2 linked regions of the Homo sapiens genome follow. The protein of the gene in region 2 purifies or fractionates together with the protein of the main gene of each other region. This does not show direct contact. Each region holds a gene or a part of one and is shown on either strand. Other genes may lie near its edges.

Evidence for each region. Proteins that work in one complex are often made in the same cells at the same time.
Region 1: the proteins of PWP2 (region 2) and UNC45B purify together in Homo sapiens (affinity purification with mass spectrometry; one large-scale study listed by BioGRID and IntAct). This does not show direct contact.

What each region holds. Positions count from the first base shown.
Region 1 is NC_000017.11:35,164,817-35,168,316, forward strand, and holds part of UNC45B (protein unc-45 homolog B), read left to right. Parts: intron 1-3,244; coding exon 3,245-3,500. UniProt on the Homo sapiens protein: Acts as a co-chaperone for HSP90 and is required for proper folding of the myosin motor domain. Plays a role in sarcomere formation during muscle cell development. Is necessary for normal early lens development.
Region 2 is NC_000021.9:44,124,399-44,127,898, forward strand, and holds part of PWP2 (periodic tryptophan protein 2 homolog), read left to right. Parts: intron 1-181; coding exon 182-329; intron 330-1,612; coding exon 1,613-1,721; intron 1,722-2,501; coding exon 2,502-2,567; intron 2,568-3,500. UniProt on the Homo sapiens protein: Part of the small subunit (SSU) processome, first precursor of the small eukaryotic ribosomal subunit.

The DNA.
Region 1 (3,500 bases), on a different chromosome or scaffold from region 2:
GCTCATGTAATCCTCCTACCTCAGCCTCCCAGGGTAGCTGGGACTACAGGCACTTGCCACCATGCTGGGCTAATTTTTTTTTTTTTCTGTCACCCGGGCTGGAGTGCAGTGGCATGATCATGACTCACTGCAGCCTCAGCCTGCTGGGCTCAAGCGATCCTCCTGCCTCTGCCTCAGCCTCCCAAGTAGCTGAGACTATAAGTGTGCACTACCACGCCTGGCTAATTTTTGTATTTTTTGTTTTGCTATGTTTCCCAGGCTGGTATTGAACTCCCAAGCTCAAGCAATCTTCCTGCCTCTGCCTCCCAAAGTGCCGGGATTACAGGCATCAACTACCTTGCCCAGCCATGGACATATTTTATACCTACCACTGGCTTCTGTGGTTGAAAGGAACACATGTCAGCTTGTCAAGGAGGGAGGCCCGGTTCTTTCAAGACTAAGACTCATGTGGCTTTGCAGAGCTAGACAGGGGTTAGGACCCTCAGCAGCTGCAGTTCCTGAGTCTCCTCACTGGTGCTCCAGCATCAGTGTGACTCCAGTGCATGACCTTTTAATTCTTTATTGCAGTGATTCCCAGACTTGTAAATTATTCAGATTTCTGAGACATCCCCTCTTGACTCGGTAGTTTGGGGTGTGGCTCAGGAAGCTGCATGCTTAAAAGCACTCCAGGTGAGTCTTAGGTGGGTGAAGACGTTGCCTTTACTCTGCTTTTCCTTTCTATATTCCAGGGGTCAACAAACTTTTTCTATGAAGGGCCAGAGAGTAAATATTTTAGTATTTGTGGGACAGATAAGTCTCTGTCAACATATTTTTAAAAATCCTTTAAAATGCAAAAAGCTGGCTGGGCACAGTGGCTCACGCCTGTAATCCCAGCACTTTGGGATGCCGAGGAGCGCGGATCACCTGAGGTCAGGAGTTCAAGACCAGCCTGACCAACATGGTGAAACCCCATCTCTACTAAAAATACCAAAAATTAGCCGAGTATGGTGGCACATGCCTGTAATCTCAGCTACTAGGGAGGCTGAGGCAGAAGAATCGCTTGAACCCAGGAGGTAGAGGTTGTAGTGAGCCAAGATCGCACCACTGCACTCCAGCCTGGGTGACAGAGCAAGTCTCCATCTCAAAAAGAAAAAAGAAAGGCAAAAAGCTGCTGGCCAGGTGTGGTGGCTCATGCCTGTAATCCTAGCATTTTGGGAGGCCGATGTGGGAGAATTGCCTGAGACCAGGAGTTTGAGACCAACCCAGGCAATGTAGAGAGACCCTCATCTCTAAAAAAAAAAAAAAAAAAAAAAAAATTAAAAATGAGTCAAGTGTGGTGGCACACCCCTGTAGTCTCAGCTACTTGGGAAGCTGAGGTAGGAGGATCACTTGAGCCCAGGAGGTCAAGGCTGCAATGAGCCTTGAATGCACTACTGCACTCCAGCCTGGGCAAGAGCGTGAGACCCCGTCTCAAATAAAATAAAATAATGTGAAAGCTATTCTCAACTCCCTGGATTTGCCAACTCCTTCTCTACCCCACGGCTTCTGCTCACCCTGACTTTGGTTCACTTAGGTCTTTTCAAGGCTTCTGTCTTTCTCTACCTCAGTTTCAACTTTTCCTGCTGACTTCTTGAGTCCCTCATGAGGTCCCCAACTGACTCCCATTACCTGTCATCCAGCTAGTTCTTGTTTGGGCTTGTTGATTGAGGCTCCCTCCTGTCAGCCTGTGGAATGCTGAGAGGAGGGGTCACTGCCTTCATCAAATGGTGCCCCAGCCTGCCCCTAGCAAGAGTGGAATACATCCCGCTTCATCAGGGGCGGGGGCTGTGTGGGGACCCAGTGCCAGCTCAAAGGTCAGACCGCAACTAATTACGAAGGATGCTGGTTCCCTGGGCACTGAGTGGAGAGATGAGGCACAGGACATGGGATGCTCAAGCTGGAGGGGCTGTCAGAGCTTCCAAAGCTGAGTCCTCTTCCCCAGGGGAACTTGCCTGAGATCCTCCAGCAATCAGAGGCAGACATGGGACCAGAGCCCAGGTCTTGGACTCTTGGTGTGGAGTTCTCCTGACCAGTCCACGCTGCCTTCTTGCATTTATACACAGCTGCATTTCCACTGTGCACATCTGCCCTGTTTCCCACAATGCACCAACCTGGGCAGATGAGAAGCATCAGAAGGCATGTCACCTCTGACATTCCCACGCAGAGATTCTCCCCTAGAGTAGATGATAATAGATTCTGAAAGCAAGGCAGAACGTTCCTGGATATCTAGCCCACATGCTCACCAACAGGGGAAGGGACTAAGACCAGATCACCAGAGGGGAGTGACTGGCCCAGGCCATGTCACAGAGAGACACAGTGTGCCGGGCATCACGCTAGGCCTTTTTGTGTTGTTGTCAATGCTGTACTGTCCTCCCAGACACAGCAGCTGCTGGAAAGGCTGTCAGCTGACAGCTCTCAGCTGTTATCTCTCTTTGGGACTTGTCTCACCTGGGGAGAGCTGTTTCACCCTTCCCAGGGAAGCCAGTATGCAAACACTCACACCAGGCTAGTTGAGGTGACTCAGACCTATAATACCAGTGCTTTGGGAGGCCAGGTGGAAAGATCATCTGAGGCCAGGAGTTTGAGATCAGCTTGGGCAACATAGCAAGATCCCATCTCTACAAAAAAATTTAAACAATTGTCTGAGCATGATTGTGTGCACCTGTAGTCTCAACTGCTCAGGAGGCTGAGGTGGGAGGATTGCTTGAGCTTAGGGGTTTGAGGTCACAGTGAGCTATGATGGCACCAGTGCACTCCAGCAACAGAGCAAGACTCAGTCTCAAAAAAAAAAAAAAGAAAGAAAAAGACTCACTCTAACTTGGAACAACTGTGAAGGGTCTTCCAGCTCCAGAACTTCTTGGAGGCTGAGGCTTTGTGATAGCTGCAAAATGCCTCCCTCTGCCCCAGTCCTGCTTCCTTCTCTTCCCAAGAGCTCTCTCTAATAAACTTCCTGCATGTCAATCCCTGAGTCAGAGTGTATTTCCCAGAGGCACACTCTGTGACACAGCTGTTATGTCATTTATCCTCACCACAACTCTGAGAACTAGTAGTACTATCCTCAGTTTACAGGAGCTGAGGCTCAGAGAGGTTCGCTGAATTGCCCAATATCACACAGCACATGAGTGGTGGAGCCAGGATGCAAATCCAAATCCTACTGCCTCCAAATCTCACACTCTTTCCACTCTCTTGGACCAGTTCTCTTGACCACCCTTGTCCTTTGTTTTAGGGGCAAGTTTGACCCCCAGGACATGGACAAGAACTTGAATGCCATCCAGACAGTGTCAGGGATCCTGCAGGGCCCCTTTGACCTGGGCAACCAGCTGCTGGGACTGAAAGGTGTGATGGAGATGATGGTGGCACTATGTGGCTCAGAGCGCGAGACGGACCAGCTGGTGGCCGTGGAGGCCCTCATCCATGCCTCCACGAAGCTCAGCCGCGCCACCTTCATCATCACCAATGGAGTGTCACTGCTCAAACAGATC
Region 2 (3,500 bases):
CTTGGTATATTGTCCAAGCTTGTCTTGAACTCCTGGACTCAAGCAATCTTCCCAACTCAGCCTCCCAAAGTGCTGAGATAACAGGCGGGAGCCACCATGCAGGCCTAAAGTTGGTTTTTAGGAGCCATACGCTGAGGTTTCCGTGGTGGCCACCGTAAGTCCATGTCTCCTCTCCACCCAGGGCCTTCACCGCCCTGTGCTACTCTGCAGACGGCCACAGCATCCTGGCGGGAGGCATGTCCAAGTTCGTGTGCATCTACCACGTCCGTGAGCAGATTCTCATGAAGAGGTTCGAGATCTCTTGCAACCTGTCTTTGGACGCCATGGAGGTGAGCCGCCAGCGCGGGGCCGGATGGATGTTGCTTCCAATGCAGGTGGAATGCGTCGGGCTCCTGCGTTCTGCACTCCTGGCTCCATGGGGCCTTGGGCACAGTTGTGGTGCTTGTCCTGTATCTAAGTGCACGGGCCCCTCACCTGCCCCAGCAGAGTCCGGCCGTGAAGCCAGCACCTGCCTCAGCTGTGTGTGGAGCCACGGTCCCCAACCCTTTTGGCATTTGGGACCGGTTTCGTGGAAGGCAATTTTTCCACAGACAGGGTTGGGGGGATTGATTTTGGGATGAAACTGTTTCACCTCAGATCAAGATCACCAGGCATTAGATTCTCAGAAGGAGGGTGCAACCTAGATCCCTCACGTGTCGTTCACAATAGGGTTCGCACTCCTGTGAGAATCTAATGCTGCCACTGATCTGTCAGGAGGCGGAGCTCAGGTGGTGATGCGAGCAATGGGGAGCGGCTGTAAATTCAGATGAAGCTTCACTCATTCACCTGCCCACCACTCACCTCCTGCCGTGCAGCCTGTTTCCTAACAGACCATGGGCCAGTACCAGGGGTTGGGAACCACTGCTGTGGATGACCCTGCCGAGGCTGGTTGCTAGGAGGCTGGAGCTGTGAGGGGCAGTGCCCAGCACACGCTGGCTCAGGAGACACGGACATCTGTCAGGGAAGGAGTGAACGAAGAGGGTGCTGGTAGGCCCTGCCCGATGGCTTCCTGCCCGGGGTCCTGTGTACAAGGCTCTGCCTTCACTGTCCCCACTGGTGCCTGCCCTTCCCCCTCAGCACAGCCCTCGGCTCAGGTCCCACTCACATGCTGGCTCCTGCAGGACCTCAGAATGAGAGTGAGGAAGCCCTGGTAGCCTCTAAGCAGGGGTGTGGCTGCTGGGTTCACCTGTCCACGCCCCATCGGGGCAGAAGCCCACTGTCCCCTAAATGTTTCTGGGGGAAAGTGTCCTTGGCATTTTCACAAGGGAGTAGACGGCCATCCTCGCTGTGAGCCCCAGCCTTTGTGATGGTGGCAGCAATGCCAGCATGTAGACCTCAGTCCATCCCCCTCCGCAGCCTCCGCACCTGCCCTGCTCCACAGCTTCCACACCCACCCTGTCTGCAGCTAGCTCTGCAGGAAGAGTCCCTGGGGCACTGCAGGGCTCTCTCCCCGTCCTTGTTCTAGACAGGGCTGAGGCTTGTCTGGTGTTGGGGTCAAAGAGCAAGGGTAGGAGACGAGGGCCAGGCGGCCAGGCCATCAGAAGCAAGGCGTCCACTGCTTTTGCTGTTCTAGGAATTTTTGAACCGAAGAAAAATGACAGAGTTTGGCAACCTGGCACTAATTGATCAGGATGCTGGGCAGGAGGATGGAGTCGCGATACCACTGCCAGGCGTCAGGAAAGGTGAGCAGAGGTTCCTCCCGCATCTGCCCACCACTCACCGGTCCTGGGTGACCACGCATTCATGCCCCTGGTTGGGGCTGCAGTGTGTGGAAATAACAGTTACTACATGGTGACATTTGCTGGACACTGGGGGTGTCAAAGGCCCAGTGGGTTGGTGCTGGTGCCGTCAGCCCCTGGGCAGGAGAAGCTGCCCATGTGTTGCTACACGTGGCCTCCCTGCCCTGGCGGGACCCGTCCATTTGCTCTTGGGACTGGGTGCCCCGTCTGCTGCACAGCACACGGAGCATTCTGGCGTGAGGCCATGTGCGCCGCACAGAGAGCCAGGTGCTCTAGAAGATCTGGGTCCCAGGTAGACCATCCTGATGGGACACTCGCCAGCCAGAAACCCTGAGTGCTTCCATATGCAGGCCCAGGGTACCGTGTTGAGCACAGCAGACCCACTCCTGGGCTGGGCTGGGGCCCTTTTCTGGGTTGGACACACAGTCTGCTGGCCGGGCTGGCTTTTTTGAGCATCTGCCCCATGGGCTGGGCCATCTGTTTGGCAGCTCACCCGGAACAGCCTCCGCGGCCCCAGCACGGGCCCACCTGCCGCAGCTGCAGCGAGGGAAGGGCTGCTTCTGCCTCCGCTTTGTGCAGGACCCAATGAGTAGAGGCTGCTGCTCTTGATGGGGCTCCCACAGCACCCCCCAGCCAGCCGGGAGACCGCAGGATGACTTGCTTCGTGGGGAGAGCAGCCTGGATATGCTGTCCAGTGATCATTAACGGTTCTTTTTTCCCCAGGTGACATGAGTTCTCGGCACTTCAAACCTGAGATCAGGGTGACCTCACTCCGCTTCTCTCCCACTGGTGAGCACTGAGCCATGGGCTTTTGGTGCCGGTGGGCACTGGGGCATCTGTGCCATAGCAAGGCTGGCCACCATGGAGCTGTCTGCAGGCTCTGGGCTGTGCCCTGTGCCCCTGGGTAAGAACATGGCCCTGCAAACCCTGCAGGCCACAAGATGGCTGTTGTCCCTGAGGATGGATGGCTGTCACGGTGCCAACCTCAGATGCACTGAGCTTTGAAACATGGCAGGCCTGGTATGCCCTTGCTCTAGCAGCTCCCCGAGTGCCCTGGACGTGCTGCCTGGGGGCGGCTCTGCCATCACGGAGAGCCCGTCTCCTGCGCACTGCCCCCATCCTCTCGCAGTGGGGAGGAGGGTCTGTGCCACAGGCCTGTGGAGCCTGGCGGTGCACATGGTCCCCACACAGAGGAGCCAGGAGCAGGGCTATTGGCAAGCGTGCTCCAGCCTAGACTGAGTGTCAGAGCCAGGGGCAGAGAGGCCCATGTGAGCCAGGGGTCTGTGCCCTCGGGCCCAAGGGCCAAATCTGGCTGGCCACCTGCTTTGGTCACTGATGTTTTACTGGGACATTTTACTGGGCGTTTTTTTGTTGGCGGATCCTTCTGGCTGTCTCTAGTGATCCGTGCAGCACTGAGTAGGTGCAGCAGAGACCACAGGGCCTGCGGAGCTGAAGACGCCTGAGCTAGACAGAAGACTTGGCTGGCTCCCGGCGTCAAGAGAGGAGGACGCATGCGTGTACATATTTGCTTATATGTGCATCCCTGGGAGAGTAACTTCTGGGATGATCCATTCATTCCTTCCCAGGGGAGTAGTGGGGTGGGGGCTAGAGGCAGACGTCCCGGTTCCTCCTGATTTTTGCACTTTGTCCCAGGGGAATGTACTTAATACTGTTTCTTTAAAAAAAAAAAAAAAGAAAAAAAATGTTGGGAGGAATGAGCTT